4 separate regions of the Homo sapiens genome follow, and all the other regions are linked to region 1. Evidence: fine-mapped expression QTL. A gene starts in region 1. Each other region holds a variant in brackets. All regions are shown on one strand. Distances are between the middles of the regions.

The links. PIP is the estimated chance that this variant, and not a neighbour inherited with it, causes the effect.
Region 2: its variant is the best candidate, but not a certain one, in a credible set for the expression of RUFY3 in whole blood (TOPMed, PIP 0.52).
Region 3: its variant is the best candidate, but not a certain one, in a credible set for the expression of RUFY3 in B cells (Fairfax 2012, PIP 0.65).
Region 4: its variant is the best candidate, but not a certain one, in a credible set for the expression of RUFY3 in whole blood (Lepik 2017, PIP 0.64).

What each region holds. Positions count from the first base shown.
Region 1 is chr4:70,718,449-70,724,622 of GRCh38, reverse strand. RUFY3 (RUN and FYVE domain containing 3) reads right to left here and starts at 2,659. Exons shown (of 18, transcript NM_001037442.4): 1 at 1,872-2,659. The coding sequence starts at 2,049.
Region 2 is chr4:70,767,231-70,773,404 of GRCh38, reverse strand. It overlaps RUFY3 (RUN and FYVE domain containing 3), which reads right to left. Exons shown (of 18, transcript NM_001037442.4): 5 at 4,744-4,867. Among named protein-coding and RNA genes, the nearest start is that of RUFY3, 48 kb to the right of the region's middle. The variant T/C (reference allele first, on the strand shown) is at 2,945.
Region 3 is chr4:70,867,087-70,873,260 of GRCh38, reverse strand. No RefSeq gene overlaps it. Among named protein-coding and RNA genes, the nearest start is that of GRSF1, 30 kb to the right of the region's middle. The variant C/T (reference allele first, on the strand shown) is at 2,642.
Region 4 is chr4:70,653,652-70,659,825 of GRCh38, reverse strand. It overlaps JCHAIN (joining chain of multimeric IgA and IgM), which reads left to right. Exons shown (of 4, transcript NM_144646.4): 3 at 2,535-2,615; 4 at 3,287-4,285. The coding sequence ends at 3,497. Among named protein-coding and RNA genes, the nearest start is that of JCHAIN, 9.8 kb to the left of the region's middle. The variant T/A (reference allele first, on the strand shown) is at 2,329.

The DNA of each region.
Region 1 (6,174 bases):
GGAAACTCTGTATTTATCTGATTTCTTTAATCAGCAGACATACAATTTATTACTTAGATTATAGCTCTCACACATTTTCCATACTGAGAAATGTGTTGCTACAGATTTCTCTATGAAGAATTCAAATGGCGCTGCTAAAAACGCTTACATGAACCAAACAGCTCACTTTTGCTTATCCATAGGAATCCTGCTCCAAAAACATATATTTGAGGTGTTAAAATTGTTAAAAATTATTTTTGAGACACTGGTAAACTAGATTTCATGATAAAGGGAATATTTCATATTGTATAACTCTCAAATTGGACGGGAATACATTTTTTTCAAACAAAATATGTAAACTGAGGCAGTTGCCAGAAGACTTCTTGGTAGCCTTCTAAAACTGTATTTTTCTTCCCTAAAGACTTTTAAAGCTTTGGAGGCTGTTTTAAGTAGTACTGGAATTGTTGGATGTAACGATGTTTTGATGAAAATATAGAATAAAATAATAATAAAAAATAAATAGTACTGGCATTGCATGGAATTTCAGCTGATGTCTTATAACTTGTGCACATAACGAAACATACAGCCAAAGAAAGCTGTCTAATTAACAAACCAATTGTTAAAAGATGCAAAGGGTCTTAAAAACCACTTAAACATTGTTCTTAAAGACACACCCAAAATGACTGCTTTGTGTTCTGTGTTATTAACCATCCCTAAAACTTTCTCAAGGCTAAGGCTGACTGGGAAGATAAAATGCTTATCAAACACAATGGGAAAATTCTGAGTCATGATAAGATTTCAACTCAAGGTCAAAGGCAGAGAATCACCTTTCCTAACCCCATCTGCTAGGTACAATTCACCTATGGTCTTCTTTGTCCTGTCGATGTGCCTAACTATCAGGCAGATGTTTATAAAGAATTTCTCCTCATATGCAAGCGTTTTTTGTTTTTTTTCATCAGTATAAGGACAGAGAATAAACCTTAGCTAAGAAGCAACTGTATTAAAAACAAAACGATTTGTAGCTATGATTCAAATCAGCTCTCTTTCTGTGGTATTAAGAGAATTAAAGGGTAGAAGCAGAAAACCTCTCATAAATTAGCAAGAGTCCTGGAAAAAAGTCGCAAGTCAAGAGACCACAAAGATCTCAGAGGTACTGACAGTGGAAATCTCAAATGGATCATAATAGTTACCACAAATAATTTATAAAAAGCAATGGCCAATAGATTCCAATATTACCATTCTATTGTAATCTATAGGGATGCCATATTAATCATATTTAACCTTTCCAGGCATTATGCTTTCTTAGGAGTCCATATTCAATAAATAAATGCTGAAAAGTTATTTTCTCATCTAACCTAATAATCCATATTGTTAAAAAAATGTTTTATCAAACATTTCCTAGATGTCATAACTTGCTTAAAATTGTATCCTCATATAATGGTGAGGATACCATTACCAAATACCCTGGTGTTTCTACTGTATTCATCATGTACAATCCTATAATTATAGTCATGTTGTCTTAACTTAGTGTTATAAATCACTACAATTTCTATAACATTTTCATATATGAACAAAATTAATAGCTTTCTCATTATTGAATAGAATCAGATGTGATAAGTGACCTCAAATGTTTTATTTAGAGGCTTAAAGACAAAGAACTCTAAACGAGTATCCAGCATCTTTTGAAAGGATACCTAAAGGGGCAAGAAAAAAAATTATCTTTCCCCCATGAGCAAGAGAAGGGGAGCTGGGTGGTAAGTAAGGATGCAAGGTTTTCAGGACTGTTAACAGTTGAGAGTGTAGGTTCTTTCTACCTCTCCCTGATCCTCCCAGCCCTCCCCCATAACAATGAGGATGCTGGTGAAATACTAGCGGACAGGATCTGACCATACCTTCATGGGTAGGCTCTGGGTCAGGTGTAAGTGAGATGTCATCCAGCTCTCGCAGGCAGAGCCATTCTCCATCCATGGACACTCGGAATTTGCAAAGGTAGATGGTCTCCATGGCAGCCTGTGTGATCTTGTCAGTGGTGGGGGTTGGCATATCGGTCGGAGGCGTCAGAGCAGACATGATGACTCAGCTGGGACCACAACACACACACAGACACACACACACTCACACACACACACCAAAAAAATAAATACAACCTCCTCACCAAAAAAACCCAATACAAAGCTCTGAAACAAAGCTTTCAGGAAAAGGGTGGGGGAGGTTTAAAAAAAAAAAAAAGGAAAAATACCTTATAGGTTAAGAACAAACTGCTCAAGATAAACAATTCTACACTATCTTATAGACAGTTCCTACCACATAGCAAAATAAGATGATGCTTGTCTTCTCCCAGCTTCCTCTCCTTTTATCTTCCCTTCCCTGCCCCCCACCTTTTTTTTCAGCTGAGCTATAGGCTTTAAATCCCGCACAGCTGATGCTGCCTTAGCTGGCTTTAAAAATCTGGCCTCGATATGAGTAAGTGAAAAATCCTCCTCCTTTGTGCAGAAAAAAAATATAAAAGAAAAACCTGAACAAAAAATAAACCTATATTTTCAATGTAGCTTAAAAAAAAAATCCTGAGCTGCAGAAATCACTTCCAGGATCTGCTCAGATGAGCTGGGATGCTGAGTTCTCATAGGATTGGCCGTGCGCAGTAAGCAGGGTGTTGACCAAAATGGCTGACTAATGAACTGAACTGAAAATTCAGGCTCATGTGACCAGCTGCTCTGAACGTAGGGCAAGCAATTCCCAGGATGCTTTATAGATGCTGCTGATGCTGGGAGAGCAATTAGGCTTCTCTCTCTCATCCTGTACAACCCACTTCCAGACTGTGCTAGTCAAACTGTGATCAGACATAACACAATGCACATATCCTCATCAATTCTTCTTACTTTGGGATCAAGGACTGAATAAAAGGATGACAATTAATACCGGATAATAATCTATAGTAAAGATGGTAAAAGAGGCAGTTAGATTAATTTAACAAGCATATAATTCACCTCTTTCATTCTTATCTACATAGCTATTAAAATTCTTTACTATGCTAAATGTTATGTTTTAAGAAAAGCTAAAGCATAAAAAATTGAGGTTCTCAGAGGGAAAAAAAACAAAAAGATAAAAAGAAAAGCTAAAGTAGATTTTCAATTTAAATATCTTATTCTTGGGCATTTATAATTTCCTTCTCCAAGGTACAAAAACCTGACCTTTTAGGTTAGGCAGAAATGCAAAAAAAAAACTTCAAGTTAAAAAAGTAAAATCTTTCCCAATTAATGGCAATTTCCCCCCTTTTTGATTTTGTTGTATTTATCAAGTTTCTGTATTAAGCATAAAATACGTTTCTTTTTTTTTCTTTTTTCTTTTTTGAGACAGAGTCTTGCTCTGTAGCCCAGGCTGGAGTGCAGTGGCGTGATCTCAGCTCCCAGGTCCAAGCAATTCTCTGCCTCAGCCTCCCGAGTAGCTGGGATTACAGGCACCCACCACCACGCCCAGCTAATTTTTGTATTTTTAGTAGAGACGGGGTTTCACCATCTTGGCCAGGCTGGTCTTGAACTTCTGACCTCATGATCCTCCCACCTCAGCCTCCCAAAGTGCTGGGATTACAGGCGTGAGCCACCATGCCCAGCCTTAAGCATGAAATATGTTTCTAAGCAGATTAAACCATGTTATATTTTTAAAATCCTCCCATTCGATAAGATACTGAAGACAATTATATTTTCTTAATACACACACACACACACACACACACACACACACACACACACACACACGGCCCTATATTATCCAATGAGGCATTTATACCTTGGTAGCAAAAGGGCAGGTACTTGCTTTATGAACTACATAAATTACAAAGAGAAGAATAAGAATTTTCTTTGAAAATGTTTTGGACAATTGAAAGAAAGTGTTTGTTTGTTTTTGTATTGAAGGGTTCCAATTTTAAGGAGGAACATACAAATTCAAGAAATATGACCTGAGACTATTCCTTTCTAGGGATTGTTATCAGAGGGACATCTTGATTTACCTAATTTCTGAAAACTAAAAAAATTCTCCTTGAATATTGTTAAAATCTCAAATGCTTCATCATAATTTGAGACTGAACTGAAAGAAAAAAATGCTAATAATCAAATTCTGTAGAGAAACTGGCATTTTCATATTGTTACGAAGACAGGGCGGATGGCTGGGCGCGGTGGCTCATGCCTATAATACCAGCACTTTGGGAGGCCAAGGCGGGCAAATCACCTGAGGTCAGGAGTTCGAGACCAGCCTGGCCAACATGGTGAAACCTCATCTCTACTAAAAATACAAAAATTAGTCAGATGTGGTGGCATGTGCCTGTAATCCCAGCACTTTGGGAGGCTGAGGCAGGTGAATGGCTTGAGCTCAGGAGTTTGAAACCAGCCTGGGCAACATGGCAAAACTCCATCTCTACAAAAACAAAAATTAGCAAGGTATGGTTGCGCGCACATGTGGTCCTAGCTACTTGGGAGACTGAGGTGGAAGAATCACGTGAGGCCAGGAGGCAGAGGCTGCAGTGAGCCGAGATCATACCACTGCACTCTACCCTGTCTCAAAATAAAAAAAAGAAGGAGGGTATACTGGTACAATGTAAGAAGGCATATATATAGGCTTATTTATAATTGGGGAAAATCAGTAAGTTACTAAGGAAAGCAAAATACTCCTGGTTTTATTTCTATCTCATTCTCTCTCATCATTACCCTACATCTAGACTCAGAGCCATTCATTCATTCATTCATTCAACAGATATTCACTAAGAGGTGCTCCACATGCCAGGTAGTGATCCAGGCACTAGGCACGCAGCAGTAAGACAGAAACACCTTTTCCAGGAAACAGAATTTTCATATCCAAATACTGAACACAAGCCTTCATTTAACACATTCTCATTTAATTCAGTTCAATTCCTTTCTAGCCAAAAATATTCCCATATTATATATTAATAAGGGGACAGTTTATAGATTCACTTTATATCATGCAATACTTCAAAACATAGTAAGTAGTCATTAAAACCTTCAAATTACATGGGACATTCCTGGAACCACAACTCCAAACAGCCCTAGCTATCTGTATGTGTGATATCAAAACTCTAGATCACTGATATGTTCTTAAAACAGAACAAGGAATACATGAATAAATCCGAATGCCATGTGATTGTCTGGGGTCCAAAACCTGAATTTGGCCTTGTCACAAACCACAACAATCTCTTCACCCCAGTAAGCATTTACTAACTTGAACAGATCTAGATTGATTGCAACATACCAACACAACAGGAACATCAAGGTTAGTGAGCAAGAAACTTGATTAACATTCCTTCGGAAGATCCATCCCACCCTGCCTCTCTCCAGGTAGAGGACACAGAGAGGCAAGCCCAAAACAACTAAAGTTTTTGGCAAGGAAAGAAAAACATGCCTGTATTGGTATCCTTGAATTTCCCAGATCTACCAGTTTGAGGTGTTGGCAGCCATTTCAGAAATAAGACCCGGGGGTGGGCAAGAAAAACTGTACTTCTACGCTGTTCTTTAGGTAAACACCATTGAGTCTTCAGCACGAACAGTTATCCATTGTTCACAGGCAAAGAAGTTACTATGAAAACAGTGCTATTTGTAGAAACTTATAAAAACAATTCTACGGCCGGGCACGGTGGCTCATGCCTGTCATCCCAGTACTGTGGGAGGCTGAGGCAGGCGGGTCACCTGAAGTCGGGAGTTCAAGACCAGCCTGACCAACATGGAGAAACGCCATCTTTACTAAAAATACAAAATTAGCTGGGCGTGGTGGCACATGCCTGTAATCTGCTACTCTGGAGGCTGAGGCAGGAGAATCGCTTGAACCTGGGAGGCGGGGGTTGCAGTGAGGTGAGATTGCACCACTGCACTCCAGCCTGTGAAACTCCGTCTCAAAGAAAAAAAAAAAAGATTTTAGATATTGCTTAGTACCGTTTTTACATTTTGGTCTTTACTAAGTAAACATCTTAGCTTTGAATATGAAGTTAAAGTTAAGCCATCAGTAAGATATTCAAACCTTGATTTTTTTTCTCACATACAGAGTAATTACTGTATGAGCTGTATTGAACTATTTTCTCATTTGATCCCATTTGTGAGTAATGGCACCTATTTGTAAGATGGTTGTGAGGCGGGTGGGAGTTCAGTCTGTGGCCCTAAAAGAATAGGCCTGTGTGAAGTTCAAATCCAAAAT
Region 2 (6,174 bases), 49 kb before region 1:
TACTAGAAATTTACGATTAAAAATGTACTGTTTTACTTTCAGTTTAATCAAGAATTAACAAGAGTTGGAAGTAAAGAATCAAGATTATGTCAATAAGACTAGAAGACTAGATCACAACTAACACAGTCAACAGAATACTTAATATAAATAAGGTCTAAAGTTTCTTTCTCTTTTGCTTATTTCGGGTATTCTGCTACTGAATCCCTGTTCATTTTTAGAAATAACTTTTTAAAAATTAGCACATTTCCCCTGTAGAAGTTTCAGAAAATACAGCTAAAAAAAAGGGGAAGTAATATTAAACACTCATAATCCCAACCACTGAAGATGACCATTGCTAATATTTTGGTGTCTGTTCCTCCAAACTTTCATTGATGTACACGTCTTCATTTTTCAAGATTGCCATTTTATTATTTAGCTTATTTCTTTTTAAAAATCCACACCAAAGGCCGGGCGCAGTGGCTCTTGCCTATAATCCCAGCACTTTGGGAGGCCGAAGCGGGTGGATCACCTGAGGTCAGGAGTTCGAGACCAGACTGAACAACATGGAGAAACCCTGTCTCTACTAAAAATACAAAAATTAGCTGGGTGTGGTGGCACATGCCTGTAATCCCAGCTACTCGGGAGGCTGAGGCAGGAGAATTGCTTGAATCCAGGAGGTGGAGGTTGCGGTAAGCCAGGATCTCACCATTGCACTCCAGCCTGGGCAACAAGAGCAAAACTCCGTCTCAAAAAAAATAAAAATAAAAAAATAAAAAAAAAATCCACACCAAAAAATCTTACTTCCCTTCCTATTTTACCAGAATAAAACATAACAGAAGTTTGTCATAGTATTTCATACAGAAAGGGTGAGAAGTAATTAAAGTGAAAACATTATTTATTGGGCAATTAATGTGTACTAGGCCCTGTTCTAACTGCATTACATCAAGAAATCTGAAACAACAAGAAACTAAGTAATTATAAAATATATTCAGCTAGAAAATGAGGAAGCCAGAATCCAAACCTAGGCAGTTAGCTTCAGAGCCTTTACTCTTAACTACCGTGCTTTAATGGCCTTTAGTACAGTTCGCTCTCATTCTCAGCAAGTCCTAAAATCCAAGGACGCAGAGGGCTGACTGTAAGGGCTTGAGCATTGTGAGTGTTGGTATTCATGGAGGTGCTGGAAATAATCTCCTTTGGACACTGAAGGACAACTGTACAGTTGATTCTTGAACAACACGACTTTGAATTGTGCGAGTCCACCTATATACTATATATATACACAATATAAAATATATATTTATATTATATTATTTTATTTCTGAGACAAAGTCTCACTCTGTCATCCAGGCAGAAAAAAAAAAGGTTTTCCTCCATCTCTGCCACTCCTGAGACAGCAAGACCAACCGCCTCCTCTTCCTCCTCCTCCTCATCAATCTGGTTAGTGTGAAGACCTTTATGATGATCTGGTTCCTTTATGATAATCCATTCATTTAAATGAATAGTAAATATATTTTCTCATCTTTATAATTTTCCTATAATATTTTCTTGTCTCTAGCTTACTTTATTGTAAGAATACAGCATATGAAATATACAATAGGCCAGGCGCCATGGCTCATGCCTGTAATCCCAGCACTTTGGGAGGCCGAGGCAGGAGGATCACTTGAGCTCAGGAGTTCAAGACCAGCTTAGGCAACATAGCGAAACTCTGTCTCCACAAAACAAAAAAATTAGCTGGGTGTGGTAGCATGTTCCTATAGTCCCAGCTACTCTGAAGGCTGAAGTGGAAGGATCAATTAAGCCTGGGAGGCAGAGGTTGCACTGAGCTGAGTTCACTCCACGGCACTCCGGCCTGGATGACAGTGAGACTTTGTCTCAAAAATAAAATAAAATAAATATAAATATAACTATTTATAATATACAAAATATGTGTTAATTGACTGTTTATGTTACTAGTAAGGCCTCTGGTTAATCGTATGCTATTAGTACTTAACGTTTTTAGGGAATGAAAAGTTTTAGGTGAATTTTCTATGTGGGATGTTTCTACCATGTGGAATGCCTTACTCTGTTGTTCAAGAGTCAACTGCATATATTTTAGTATACACACACACGCACACACACACATACCTCATTTTATTGCACTTTGCTTCACAGATATTGCATTTTTTACAAATTGAAGGTTTGTGGCAACCCTGCGTCATGCAAGTATATTAGTGCCATTTTTCCAACAGCATGTGCTCGCTTCATGTCTCGGTTTCACATTTTGGTAACTCTCACAGTACTTTAAACTTTTTCTTTATTATTACATCTGCTATGATAACCTGTAATCAGTGATCTTTGATGTTACTATCAAAATTATTTTGGGGCTCCATGAACTACGCCCATATAAGATGGCAAGCAATCCATAAATGTGTATGTTCTCACTGCTCTACTTACTGGCCGTTCCCCCATCTCTCTCCCTTCTCCTTGGCCTCCCTATTCCCTAAGACACAACAATACTGAAATTAGGCCAATTAATAACCCTGCAATGGCCACTAAGTGTTCAAGTGAAAGGAAGAATTGCACATTTCTTATTTTAAATCAAAAGCCAGAAAAAATTAAGCTCAGTGAAGAAGGCATGTCGAAAGAGAAGACAGGCCAAAAGGTAGGCTTTTTGGGCCAAACAGCCAGGTTGTGAAAGCAAAGGAGAAGTGCTTGAAGGGAATTAAGTGCTACTCATGAACAAATGAATGACAAGAAAGCAAAACAGCCTTATTGCTGACAGGAATAAAGTTTGAGTGGTCTGTATAGAAGATCAAACCAGCCACAACATTCCCTTAAGCCAACACCTAATTCAGAGCAAGGCCCTAATGCTCTTGAATTCTATGGAGATTGAGAGGTAAAAAAGCTGCAGAGGAAAAGCCTGAAGTTAGCAGCCACTGGTTTACGAGGTTTAAGGAAAGTGTCTCCATAACATAAAAGTACAAGT[T/C]GAAGCAGCAAGCACTGATGTAAATAATAGAAGCTGTAGCAAGTTATCCAGAAGATCTAATTAAGATAATTGATGAAGGTGGATACACTCAACAACAGATTTTCACTGTAGTCAAAACAGCCTTCTATTAGACAATGCCATCTAGGACTTTCATAGCTATAGATGAGAAGTCAATGCCTGGCTTCAAAGCTGCAAAGGACAGACTGACTCTCTTGTTAGAGGCTAATACAGCTGGTGACTCTAAGTTGAAGCCAGTGCTCATTTACCATTCTGAAAATCCTAGGGCCCTTAAGAATGATGCTAAATCTACTCTGCCTATGCTTTATAAATGGAATAGTGGGCTGGGCATGGTGGTTCATGCCTGTAATCCCAGCACTTTGGGAAGCCAAGGCAGGCAGATCACTTGAGGCCATGAGTTTGAGATCAGCCTGGGCAATATGGCAAAACCCCATCTCTACTATAAATAAAAAAATTAGCTAGGTGTGGTGGTGCATGCCTGTAGTCCAGCTACTCAGGAGGATGAGGCATGAGGATTGCTTGAGCCCAGGAGGCGGAGGTTGCAGTGAGCTGAGATGGTGCCACTGCATTCCAGCCTGGGAGACACATTAAGACTCTGTCTCTAAAAAACAAAAAACAAAAACAAAAACAAAACAAAAATAAAGGGTACAACAAAGACAGCACATCTGTTTACAGCATGGTTTACTAGAGTATTACATAAACTTAGTTGATAAAGCAGCAGCAAGATTTGAGAGGACTGACTCCAATTTTGAAAGAAATTCTACTGTGGGTAAAATGCTGTCAAACAGCGTGGTATGCTACAGAGAAATCTTTTGTAAAGGAAGCCAATTAATGTGGTAAACTTCATTGTTGTCTTATTTTAAGAAATTGCCACAGCCACCTCAACTTTCAGCAACTGCCAAGATCAGTCAGCAGCCATTAACACTGAGGTAAGACCCTCTACCAGCAAAAAGATTACAACTCACTGAAGGCTCAGGTGATTGTTAGCATTTTTTTAGCAATAAAGTATTTTTAAGTTAAGGTATGTACATTATTTTTTACACTTACACTATCACATACTTAATAGACTACAGTATAATGCAAACAAACTTTTTATTTAAAAAATTTTTTTTAGAGTTTTATTTTGAGACAGGGTCTCACTGTCACCCAGGCTGGAATGCACAATTATGGCTAACTATAGCCTCGACTTCCCAAGCTTAAGTGATCCTCCTGCCTCAGCCTCCCAAGTAGCTACACAACCAGCTAATTTTTTATTTTTTGTAGAGACGGGGTCTCACTATGTTGCCCAGGCTGGTCTCAAACTTCTGGGTTCAAGTGATACTCCTGCCCCAAAGTGCAGGGATTACAGGTGTGAACAATCGCACCTGGCCTAGTATAAACAAACTTTTACATGTACTGGGAAACCAAAAAATGCATGTGACTTGCTTTATTATGATATTTGCTTTATTGTTGTGATCTGAAACCAAACCTGCAATATCTCTGGGTATACCTGTGTTTGTGTGTGTATGTATGTGTATGTAAATGTGTATGTGTGTGTGTGTATATGTATGTTTAACAGAGAGTACAGCCAAGACAAGAATCTAAAAAACATTCGTAACGTATAAATGAGCCAAACTGGAAGGAAAAACAATCTTTTTTTTATATTCCCATCAAAATGGAAGGAAATCCTGTTTATGACTCATAGAATATGGCCTAATTTGGTTGGTATAACCTAATCAAATCCACTTCTGAGATAGCAGAACTCAGAGTGACACCCATGGGAATGAGTCTCTTTCCCATACCTGAGAGTCCAAGTCTTCTCCTTTCATACAGAAATTGGCATCAATGACATTCAGACCCACCAACAGACCAGCAATTATGGCTCCTTCTTCTTCCATCATGAGGGCATTGGGTTCGTAGAATTCACTGTAAGAGAAATCCACAGAATTCCTTATTGTAACAAAAATCTCAAAAATCCAGAGACAAGGACAAAAATGGTTGATTCATGGTTGAATCATAGTCATCATGGTTGATTATAGCCATCTACAAAAATAGTAAAAAAAAAACTACAAAAAGAAAGGCTTTAGTAAATATTTTACTTTTAGAATAATAGGTGGATGTTGGCAAGTGGCACTGGAGAAAAAATTTTTTAAAAGAAAAAAATAATAGGCGCATGAATAGATTCTTTAAATAATAGGCTGGCAGAAAGACGTGACTGAACAGTATTGTGGTTGAAGCAGGTATTCAGACTTTTCTGACATATTTGTACTTGTGATGCACCATCAGATAATTTTGCAATCTTTTATGCATCTTAAAACATTTGTTTGGTAGCTCGGCATGGTGGTTCGCACCTGTAATCCCAGCACTTGGGGAGACCAAGGCGGGAGGACTGCTTGAGCCCAGGACTTTGAGACCAGAGTGAGCAACATAGTAAGACCCCATCTCTACTAAAAACAAAAAAAAATCTGAATGGATAAAAATTATTGGCTGGGCACGGTGGCTCACGCTTGTAATCCCAGCACTTTGGGAGGCCGAGGCGGGTGGATCACTTGAGGTCAGGAGTTCAAGACCAGCCTGGCCAACATGGTGAAACCCCATCTCTACTAAAAATACAAAAATTAGCTGGGTGTGGTGGTGCACACCTGTAATCCCAGCTACTCAGGAGGCTGAGGCAGGAGAATCGCTTGAACACAGGAGGCGGAGGTTGCAGTGAGCTGAGATTGTGCCACTGCACTCCAGCCTGGGTGACAGAGCAACACTCTGTCTCAAAAAAAAAAATTCGTGAAGACCCATAGATAATTAAATACTGCTTATAATGCACCTAAATTACTAATACACACACAAAAAAACCAGTGATGTAATTCATATGATCTAACTATTGCATTCCTTGGTATTTACCCAACTGAGTTAAAAACTTACGTCCACACAAAAACCTGCATACATGTGTTTATAGCAGTTTTACTCTTAATTGCCAAAATTTGGGAGCAACCAAGATGTCCTTCAGTAAATGAATGGACAATGGCATATGACTTAGCACTAAAAAAAGGGAGCTATCGCCAGGCGCAGTGGCTCACGCCTGCAATCCCAGCACTTTGGGAGGTCAAGGCGGGTGGATCACCTGAGGTCGGAAGTTCGAGACCAGCCTGACCAACATGTAGAAACCCTGTCTCTACTAAAAAAAAAAAAAAAAAAAAAAAAAAAAAATACAAAATTAGCCGGGCATGGTGGCACAC
Region 3 (6,174 bases), 150 kb before region 1:
GGGAAGAATTTATCTGCTAGTTCTTGTTTCCTTTTGGCCAAAGATTTGCTCCTTGGGAGCACTTTCTCCCCTTACTTCTGAGTTACAAATGCAAGGGCACCCAGCAAGCAAAAGCATCTCAAGCCTCGTTGTCTCAGGAAAACTCTGGGCAGGACACAAGAGTTGAGAAGTGCTAGCAAACAGTGCAATGCTGTAGTGTGGTGCCCAGGTGAGATGGTGCTGATGTAGGTGTTCACACAGAACTGCTCTCTGTAGCTCTCTACAGCTGCTCTCTTGTTCTGAGTAAGAATAAGTGGCCAAAGATCACTTTGAAATAGTGAAGAAGTGGTATTGATATGCTCTTTAAATCTGGACTTGTCCCCTTCTTTTTTCCCACGACACTGACTTGCTAAAGAGATCAATGTAGAAAACACCATAGTCTGAATTGGTCTGATACTTTCTTCATGAATTCATTTAGCTTATTATTTGAACTTTGTATTTCCTGTAAACTGGAAATTCAGTGTAAATGTTTTCATAGATTCAAGTTAAAGATTTTTGGCTAGAATACAATGAATGATAGTGTACATTTTATCTCGCATCACATTAGGAAACACATACTATCTCATCCCACTAACAGTGATGCTAAAATTGACCACTGGAACAAGGTAATACCTAGTAATCTTAATAATAAACATTGACTATAAGAGTATATTAAACTATGTTTTAACTCATAATACAAAAATAAACATTTAAATCATTATGAAATATGAAAATAAACATTTAAATTAAACAGAAATTACAGCTAAAGAAATGTATAGTTCACTTTGGAAATCTAAGGTTCACTAACCCAGTAAAATTGAGTGATATTGCAGAATCATTGGCTAGTTTGTATCTGGTGGGAATGAGATGATGATAATATGATACACAATCATTTTCCTGGATTCATATCTGAACTATTATAGTAAGGGTTTTAGAAATCATATGGTATTCAATACACCAAAAATAATAGTATTTTATATATTATTATTATTATTATTATTATTTTGAGACAAAGTCTCGCTCTGTCGCCAGGCTGGAGTGCAGTGGCGCGATCTCGACTCACTGCAACCTCTGCCTCCCGGGTTCAAATGATTCCCCTGCCTCCACCTCCCAAGTAGCTAGGACTACAGGCATGCACCACCACGCCCAGCTAATTTTTTATATTTTAGAGACAGGGTTTCACCATGTTGGCGTGGCTGGTCTTGAACTCCTGACCTCATGATCCACCCGCCTTGGCCTCCTAAAGTGCTGGGATTATAGGCATAAGCCACCATGCCTGGCCTATTATTATTTTTTTTTAGAGACAGTCTTGTTCTGTTGCCCAGGCTAGAGTGCAGTGGTGTGATCATAGCTCACTGCAGCTTCAAACTTCTGAGCTCAAGTGAATCCTCCTCAGCCTCCGGAGTAGCTGCGACTACAGGTATGTACCACCACTCCCAGCTAATTTTTTTTTTTTTGAGACAGAGTCTCACTTCGTCACCCGGGCTGGAGTGCAATGGCACGATCTCAGCTGACTGCAACCTCCACCTCCCGGGTTCAAGTGATTCTCCTGCCTCAGCCTCCTGAGTAGCTGGGATTACAGGTGCATATCACCACGCCCAGCTAATTTTAATATTTTTAGTAGAGACGGGGTTTCATCATGTTGGTCAGGCTGGTCTCGAACTCCTGACCTCATGATCCACCCGCCTTGGCCTCCCAAAGTGCTGAGTGCAGTGAGCCACCACGCCCGGCCTAATTTTTGTATTTTTTTGTAGAGATGGGGGTCTCACTGTGTTGCCCAGGCTGATCTCAAACTCCTGGCCTCAAGTGATCTTCCTGCCTAGGACTCCCAAAGTGCTGGGATTACAGGCATGAGCAACCATGTCCATCCTCAATTTTTAAAATTCTAGGCATTATTCTAAGTCCTTTGCAGGTAGTAATTCATTTTATCTTCATAACAACGCTATGATGTTGAGATAGGTATTGTTACTTTTCCTTTTTTATGAATGCAGAACTTGGAGCAAAGATTTTTCTCTGTAATAGGAATGCTCTTCTCCCAGATATCTGCAAGGCTATTTCCTCATTTCCTTGAAAGTTTTGTTCAATACTACCTTCTTATTGATGCCTACCCTACTGTTACAAATTGAAATTCACCCCTTTTCCCAGTTCTTATCTGCCTTTCCTCGCTCTATTATTTTTTTCACTATAGCACTTATCACCTTCTGTAGTGGCTTTGTAATGTGCCTACTTGGCTAGGCTGAACTACATTTCCCAGAATTATCTTCCCTGTACATTCTCAAAGTGGGCCACAGAGACATTTTGCATGAGATGTGGAAAGCAGAAAGGGAGCAGCAACATATTGTCTTCACTCTCAGAAGGTCAGTGCAGGCTGGGCACAGTGGCTCACATCTGTAATCCCAGCACTTTGGGAGGCCGAGGAGGACAGATCACTTGAGGTCAGGAGTTCGAGACCAATCTGACCAACACGGTGAAACCCTGTCTCTACTAAAATACAAAAATTAGCCAGGCATGGTGGTGGACGCCTAGTAATCACAGCTATTCAGGAGGCAGAGGCCCTAGAATAGCTTGAACTTGGAAAGCAGAGGTTGCAGTGAGCCAAGATGGCGCCACTGCACTCCAGCCT[C/T]GGCGACAGAGTGACACTGACTCAAAAAAAAAAAAAAAAAAAGAGATCAGTGCAGAGGCACCAAGTGTCGTTGCACATTACACATGTGTTATTTATCTGCTGGCTTATCTCCTTGATGTGGGACAGAAGCTGCTGTAGCTCCCCACTGCCCACTTCAGCTTCTCTGCCTCCTGGGCCAGGTTCATGTTTAGCCTCATAACGAGGGGTGCCAGCTTCTGCAGGATACCCACATCATCACAGTCGGAGGTTGTGAGACTGAACAACAGGTGGATTCCAGCTTGTGTTTGTGAATTCCAATTTTTTGTTGCTAGAGCAAATCACAACTAAGCCCCCTATTTAGAATGATTCTCTAGGGGACAGATTTATTACGTTGGACCACCCCCATCACGGAAGGGGCAGCACTTTGTTCTCACTGGAACAGATACTCTTTATAGGGATTTTCTCTCCCTGCACGTAGAGGTTATGCCAAAACCACCATCCACAAATTTACGGAGTGACTTATCCACAATCATGGTATTCCATATAGCATCACTTCTGATGCAGGAAGTCTTTTTGTTTGTTTGTTTTGTTTTTTGTTTTGAGACACAGTCTTACTCTGTCACCTAGGCTGCAATGCAGTGGCGGCATCTTGGCTCACTGCAACCTCCACCTCCCAGGTTCAAGTGATTCTCCTGCCTCAGCCTCCCGAGTAGCTGGGATTACAGGCACACATCACCATGCCTGGCTAATTTTTTGTATTTTTAGTAGAGACAGGGTTTCACCATGTTGGCCAGGCTAGTCTCGAACTCCTGACCTCAAGTGATCTGCCCACCTTGGCCTCCCAAAGTGCTGGGATTACAGGTGTGAGCCACCGTACCCAGCCTAGGAAGTTTTTGCATAGAAATGAAATACAGCAATGGAACTATGCTTATATTAATAAAATTCACCAGTCTTACCCTGTCACCCTCATCCTAAAGCCACTGGCCTGATGGAAAGGTGGAATGGCTTTTTGAAGACTCATTTATGGCACCAGCTAAGTGTCATATGGCATACATTGTGAGGCCTAGACAATGTCCTCCAGGATGTAGTATATGCTCTAAATCAGAAAATAACATAGGTCAGATGCAGTGGTTCATGCCTGTAATCCCAACACTTTGAGAGGCCAAGGTGGGAGGATCACTTGTGGCTAGGAGTTTGAGACCAGCCTAGGCAACATAGCAAAACCCTGTTTCTAAAAAAAAAAAAAAAAAATTAATAATAAATAAATAAATAAATAAATAAAAGGAAAAGAAAATAACATAGATGGTGCTCTTTCTTCTACAGCCAGGATTCATGGGTCTGGGAATTAAGGTGGTGGTGAGTTTGGACATGGCTCCTTTCATTATTATTCTTAATGATCTACTAGGAAACTTTTTTTGCCTCCTATCCCTGAGAATTTGAGATCTGCTAGCTTGGAGGACTTAGTTCCCAAAGTAGGATGCTTCCACTAGAGGACATAGCAATTGTTCCACTAAACTGAAAGTTGAGACTGCCACATGGTCACTTTGGGCTCATCATGCCAATGAATCAACAGACAAAATAGAAGGTAACTGTTCTGACTACCTAGAGTGATTGGTTCTGATCACCAGGGGAAAACTGGGTTGCTTCTACACAATGGGGATAAGGAAAAGTATGTCTGGAATGTGGGTGATCCCTGGAGTGCTGTTAATATCCCATGTCCTGTGATTAAAGTCAAGGGAGAAACCCTAACAACCCAATTCAGAGGGGACTGCTAATGATCCAGACCCTTCAGAAATGAAGATTTGGGATACCCCACCAGTCAAGGAACCATGACCAGATGAGGTGCTTGCTAAGGGCAAAGGGTCTATGGTATGGATAGTAATTATAAATATCTGCTATGACTAGGTGACCATAAGTAAAAATGAGGACCATAATAGTTATCAGTATTGTTTGTTTGTTTTGTTTTGAGACAGGGTCTTTCTCTGTTGCCCAGGCTGGAGTGCAGTGTTGTAATCTCAGCTCACTGGAACTTCTGCCTCCCAGTCTCAAGTTATCCTCCCACCTCAGCCTCCCAAGCAGCTGCGCCACCACATTCGGCTAGTTTTTTATATTTTTGGTAGAGACAGTGTTTCCCCATGTTGCCCAGGCTGGTCTCAAACTCCTGACCTCAAGCAGTCCACCTACCTCAGCCTCCCAAAATGCTGGGATTACAGGCGTGAGCCACTGTGCCTGGACTAGTTGTCAGATGAACTGAGAAACTGCTCTAGCTACATTAGTAATTACACAAACCTCTGAATGCTTTATAGAGTTTACCTATTACTGAAATTATTCTGGAATTTCCATTTCCAAACAAAATAAAAAAAAATTTATTTTATTGTGATGATTTCCAAACAAAAACAAAAATAATTTTTAAAGTTTACTTTTTTATTAGTTCAAGCACATTACATAATATTAAAATGAACCAACTAAATGTTGCCCACTAGAGATTTTGATTTAATATTTCACACATTCAAAATTAGCCCATCGGTCAGGAACAGTGGCTCATGCCTGTAATCTCAGCATTTTGGGAGGCCTAGGCAGGTGGATCGCTTAAGTCCGGGAATTTGAAACCAGCCTGGGCTACTTGGTGAAATCCCATCTCTATGAAAAGAAAAAAGCCAGGAGTGGTGTTGCGTGCCAGTAGTCCCAGCTATGTGGGAGGCTGAGGCAGGAGAATCTCTTGAACCCGGAATGTAGAGGTTGCAGTGAGTCGAGATCATGCCGTTGCCCTCCAGCCTGGGCAACAAGAGTGAAACTCTGTCTCACACACACACACACACACACACACACACACACACACACACACACACCAAAAAAAAAAAAAAAAAAAGCCAGGCACGGTGGCTCATGCCTGTAATCCCAGCACACTTTGGGAGACTGAGGGGGGCAGAGATCACAAGGTCAGGAGTTTAAGACCAGCCTGACCAACATGGAGAAACCCCGTCTCTACTAAAAATACAGAAATTAGCCGAGTGCGTTGGCATGCACCTGTAATCTCAGCTACACAGGAGGCTGAGGCAGGAGAATTGCTTGAACTCGGGAGGCGAAGGTTGCAATGAGCGGCGATTGCGCCACTGCACTCCAGCCTGGGCAACAGAGCGAGACTCCGTCTCAAAAAACACAAAACAAAACAAACAAGCAAACAAAAAACTAGCACATCCAGGCACAGCTGAGGCAGTGATTGTTTCCTGTTAGTATTGATAGCTCTTTGTAAATATCCTCAACACAATACTTATCACCTTATAGTCATTTGTTCACTGATATAGTTCCCAGGCTAGACTACAGTCTATAAAGGCATTTTGTTGTTGTTTTTGAGACAGAGTCTGGCTCTGCTGCCCAAGCTGGAGTGCAATGGCACGATCTGGGCACACTGCAACCTTCATCTCCCAGGTTCAAACAATTCTCCCACCTTAGCCTCCCAAGTAGCTGGGATTACAGGCACACACCACCATGCCAGATTAACTTTTGTAGTTTTTTTTTTTTTTAATAGAGGTGGGGTTTCACCATATTGCCAG
Region 4 (6,174 bases), 65 kb after region 1:
GTGCGATCTTGGCTTACTGCAACCTCTGCCTCCTGGGTTCAAACAATTCTCCTGCCTCAGCCTCCCCGAGTAGCTGGGACTACAGGCACGCACCACCATGCCCAGCTAGTTTTTTTTTGTATTTTTAGTAGAGATGAGGTTTCACCATGTTGGCCAGGCTAGTCTCGAACACTTGACCTCAGGTGATCTGCCCACCTTGGCCTCCCAAAGTGCTGAGACTGCAGGCATGAGCCACCGTGCCTGGCTTTTTTTTTTTTTTTTTTTTTTTTTTTTTTTGAGACAGAGTCTCACTCTGTTGCCCAGGCTGGAGTGCAGTAGCATGATCTTGGCTCACTGCAACCTCTGCCTCCCAGGTTCAAGCAATTCTTCTGCCTCAGTCTCCCTAGTAGCTGGAACTACATATGCACTCCTCATCGCCTGGCTAATTTTTGTATTTTTAGTAGAGACAAGGTTTCATCATGTTGGCCAAGCTGGGCTTGAACTCCTGACCTCAAGCAATCCACCTGCCTCAGCCTCCCAAAGTGCTGGGATTACAGGCGTGAGCCACCATGCCGAGCCTGCCATTATGGTATTATTCCCAACTCCATTACTTACTAAAATGATGTGACTTTGGGCAAGTTACTTAACTAGCCTTTTTCCTAAACTTTAAAAAAAGGGATAATTATGCATGTATGAATTTATACACATATACTTTATAGGGTTGTGAGGATTAAATACAATAATTCATAAAAGAACAGTGTTTGGCTTATAGTAGCCTCTCCTTTTTCTGATATTACTAGAGTCTTTACAGTCTTATTAAGAATAGTTTCATTCATTCATTCAACGAATGTTTATTTAGTAACTGCCAAATATTAAGGGTTGGTGGTGGGGATAAAACAGTTTATTTAAAATATAGTCCATTTCTTAAAAGAATTTATAGTCTAACAGGAAACCGTAAACAATTAAAACGGCAATTACAATTCTGTATTGTAAGTGCTATGATAGGAATGGGCATGGGTTGTTATAGGAGTACTGAGGAGGGGCACCCAGTCCAATCCTGGGGGAGAGGAGAAGGGTGGCAGTGGGAGGCAGGAAAGGGTGCTTGGAATAAGTGGTGGGATGGATGATGGCTGTTAGCTCAATAGGAGTTTGCTGGCTAAATGTGTGTGGGGAGTGAGAGAATTAATAGGTGGGGCAGGTCATTCCAGGAAAAGGAAACAGGATTGCTGTGACGATTATATGAGATCATCACGTAATATGCTTAGCATAGTACCAGGCACACTGTAACCAGTATTATATGTTAGAACTGTTATTGTTAAGATGGGAGATGAGAAAAGCATGGTACGTTTGTGGAATTGCAAGTGATTGTTTACAGCTGGCATGCATTGTAGATGGTGACATTGTGAGAGATGAAGCTGGAGAGTTAGGGGCATATTAGGATACGTGCCTTCTATGCTATTTGAGGATACCCTGTTATCTGTGGAGAGACACTAGAGGTTTTAAGCAGAGAAGGAAATTAAGCTTGCATTTTTAGAAAGGATGTTTGGCAATAATGTGGCCAGTGGTTTGAAGGGGTCAAGACAAAAGGAAGACATTGTTACAATCTAGGAGAGGATAGTGGTGTCCTGAATTAAGGCAGTAATAATGAGAAGAGAGGCAAGTGGATGGATTTCACACATGAAAATAATTAGAATCAACTGGACTGTGAGATTGATTAGATATGTGACAGGGGAGGATTCAGGTATGATAGCCAGGTTTTTGGCTTGGATGGTATTTATAAATACTGAGTTAGGAAACACAAGGTTTTTGTTGTTCCTTTTGGTAGGGAGGGCTGCACATGAGAAGGAATGATGACTTAGATGAAAAAAATGTTAAAGTTAATGAAATCACCTGAACTCGTTGACAATCATCTAATTTTTCATGGGACATCACGATGAAAAAGTTCCAGCTTTGCTACTTAATTGTTGTGTGAACTTGGGTGGATCACTAACCTCTCCTATTTATGATTTCCTCTCCTCTAAAATCTGGATAATAATATCTGTCTGTCCATTTCACATATATTGAACATATTCCATATGCCACATACCTAGCTAGGCACTGGGAATACATAAATGTTTTTGCCTCAAGGAACTTACATAGCCCAGGGAAGCAACCACTCTGTAGACAAGCAACTATGATACGGCATTTGATATAATAAATATATATGAGCATTAATGAGACTGCAGAGGAAGAAGTTTGTTGAAGGGTGGGGATAACATCAATATAATTATTACAGAGGTAAAACGTGAGTTGAGTTTTAAAGGAAAAGCAAAAATTTGCCAAGTCAGCAAAGATAGTTGACAGCGGAGT[T/A]GTTGTGAGGTTTATTTTGAATGAGAAATATTTAAAATATAGCAAGTTACTATAAAAATCTGAGTAACGGTATTACTCTAGAGTGCTTATAGAGTACTAAATACAATAAGTACTGTTCTGATGAAATAGTGGCCGTATACTCATTACCAAAAATAACAATATCTGCATTTCATTGTTTTAACTTTGTTTTCTTTCTTTTCTTTTAGTGTTCCTCTGAACAACAGGGAGAATATCTCTGATCCCACCTCACCATTGAGAACCAGATTTGTGTACCATTTGTCTGACCTGTAAGATATATTTTTTTCCATAGTAATATAGATGTGGAAGTTAATAGCTTTTAATTTTAACCTTGTTAGTAAGAATGTTTTTAAAAATATGTTGGAGTATAAACATTTACAAACATAATCTGAACTTTTGAATACATTAATTCCTATGTTAATTATTAGGTATCATAAATTCATAAAACTTTGTCACAGATAAAATTTAGCTATACATTTTTTCTAAAGAAAAAATCATTGGCATTCATAGAAAGGCCAATTTCTCTTAATAGTTCAATAAGTGGATTTGATCTTATAAAAAGGCAGGTGTTTCTTTGGAAATGACAGACTCCAACATCAATTTTTTTAAAAATTCTCCCTTTCTTGTCACTATAAATAACTTGTTTAGACAGATATACAGTTGGGAATAAGCCTAACACAGTAGAAATTGCTGTATGGTGTAGATAAAACAATCATATTATCATATCATTAATTATATTGCTTACTTTCAACTAATATATATTAAAGATTGGAAAATCCCATAAGCTATTCTGTATTGTAGAGCTGCTTATGTCTGAAAGGAGTCATCCCTTGCTGTCATGTCAGAGCTGCAAGAACTAATTGATTTTGGATTGAAATGTGTAGTCACATTTTGAGACAGCATTTGAGGGGATTGTCTAATACATATATTTGCTTTTCAGCTGTAAAAAATGTGATCCTACAGAAGTGGAGCTGGATAATCAGATAGTTACTGCTACCCAGAGCAATATCTGTGATGAAGACAGTGCTACAGAGACCTGCTACACTTATGACAGAAACAAGTGCTACACAGCTGTGGTCCCACTCGTATATGGTGGTGAGACCAAAATGGTGGAAACAGCCTTAACCCCAGATGCCTGCTATCCTGACTAATTTAAGTCATTGCTGACTGCATAGCTCTTTTTCTTGAGAGGCTCTCCATTTTGATTCAGAAAGTTAGCATATTTATTACCAATGAATTTGAAACCAGGGCTTTTTTTTTTTTTTGGGTGATGTAAAACCAACTCCCTGCCACCAAAATAATTAAAATAGTCACATTGTTATCTTTATTAGGTAATCACTTCTTAATTATATGTTCATACTCTAAGTATCAAAATCTTCCAATTATCATGCTCACCTGAAAGAGGTATGCTCTCTTAGGAATACAGTTTCTAGCATTAAACAAATAAACAAGGGGAGAAAATAAAACTCAAGGACTGAAAATCAGGAGGTGTAATAAAATGTTCCTCGCATTCCCCCCCGCTTTTTTTTTTTTTTTTGACTTTGCCTTGGAGAGCCAGAGCTTCCGCATTTTCTTTACTATTCTTTTTAAAAAAAGTTTCACTGTGTAGAGAACATATATGCATAAACATAGGTCAATTATATGTCTCCATTAGAAAAATAATAATTGGAAAACATGTTCTAGAACTAGTTACAAAAATAATTTAAGGTGAAATCTCTAATATTTATAAAAGTAGCAAAATAAATGCATAATTAAAATATATTTGGACATAACAGACTTGGAAGCAGATGATACAGACTTCTTTTTTTCATAATCAGGTTAGTGTAAGAAATTGCCATTTGAAACAATCCATTTTGTAACTGAACCTTATGAAATATATGTATTTCATGGTACGTATTCTCTAGCACAGTCTGAGCAATTAAATAGATTCATAAGCATATACCTGTGTGAAATAATTTGTTGGAAAAAAGTTTCCTTATGTTAACTTTCTTTACGTAAGTTAACTTGTTATTGATGAATGGTTTGTAAGTATGATGTAATGAAGCATTAATCACAGAACTAATACATGTACATATTTGAGGTGGCTTTGCCATTTTATACCCATAATTAAATAAAAGGGCAAAATCCCCCCTGATAAATACCATGTTTATCATGGCACATAAAACTTTATGGCAGAAAGCCAAGGCCAATTGACATATATATTTAAAGGTACCATGGAAAGTAAATGCTAACTCTGAATTTAAAACAGTGGGAAGATGATTAGTAAGAGTTGGTTTCTTGAAAAGGAATTGTTCTGGTAATAGTCATCTTTAATGACTTCCACGGATTATTCAGTGTTTCTTTAGGGATATGCATAGGACACTGGTGCTTCAGTAGAAACCCCAGTTTTGGTGTATTAAAGATACATCCATTCTTGACTGATCTTTAATCTAGAGTGTGGTTTTAGCCAAGTCTTTGAATCTCATTTAGTCAGTAAACATTTATTAAATATTAACCAAATGCACAGGATTGGTCTGTGGTGGTGAAGTTATGGTGAGCGCCCTTGAGAAAGTCACTATCACTGCTCGCTCCCCAGAACTGTGCCTAGGTGTCATCTTCTCTGTGAGAACCACCCTGACTACTTTTTAAATATCTCAAACCCCATTTCTTTATCTTAGTCTACTTCCCCCCAAGTACTTATCTCCCTCTAGCAGACTAGGTAATTTACTTACGTGTCATGTTTATGGTCTGTCTCCCCTCACTAGAGTGTAATCTCCACGAAGGCACGCACTTTTGCCCATTGATGTTTCCTCACCATCTGGAACAGTGTCTGGCACATGGAAGTACTCAATACATATTTGTTGAATGAATGAACATGAGTGTAGCTTAGTTGAAGAGATAAGACATACACATAAATAATTATTATTTGGCAGAGCCTGCTGAAGGCAAAGAAATAGCTTCCAAAGTGCTATGAGAATTCATGAGAGACTGCTTCTGAAGAGACCGCTTACTTTCTCCTCATCTTTGCCTTAGTTTCTCGGTGTACCCAGTAGAAGAAGTTTTGTAGATCCACATTGCAGATCCTTATAGGAAAGACCCCTATTCCAGCATTATTACCTCATTAAATGCTAGCTGGAAGAAGACTGCAATTCGTAGTCCCACAAGTCTTCCTTCTTTCAGAAGTTCAGTTAAACTCTGATACTACCATACTAGTAACAATTTAGTACTTACTATGTGCTAGGTACCAATGTAAGTGCTTTATATATATTAACTCATTCAATATAAATCTGGAGTAGCTGGTGACTCTTAAATGAGAGTTATTGAGGATAGATTAAAGCCTTTCTTTAAGTTGTATTCAAACATTTGCTGGTATTAGTGGAACATTTAGAGGGGCACACTAAGGAATCAATGTAAGATGTGGTGGCCATGAAAGGAGCCTCTCAGTTCTCTGCAAAGAATGTAATTGACCTATAGTTCTGAGATCCACTGTGTTTGTGCAAGGGACACTAAGACAGGTCAGTTCCCGGGAGACACAGGACTCTTCTGATGGGGCACTGACTTGGGGACTCCTTTTTATCTTTGCTGAAAATTTCTTAGCACTGCACCTCCAGACATTATCTGTCCAATCATCCTTCCTATCCTCTTTGCTCCACATGGGTAAGACCTGCATCAGGATCCGAAGACTCAGCCTTCTTCGGCTCCCTTCCCATTATCCCTCACAGATGTTTTCCTAATAAATCTCTTGCACCCACTAATCTCATCTTGCAATTCTGCAGGGTCCAAATTAACACAATACTGATTATGATCTATCTGATTTAGTGATGATAACGATGATAGCATTCTTCAAGT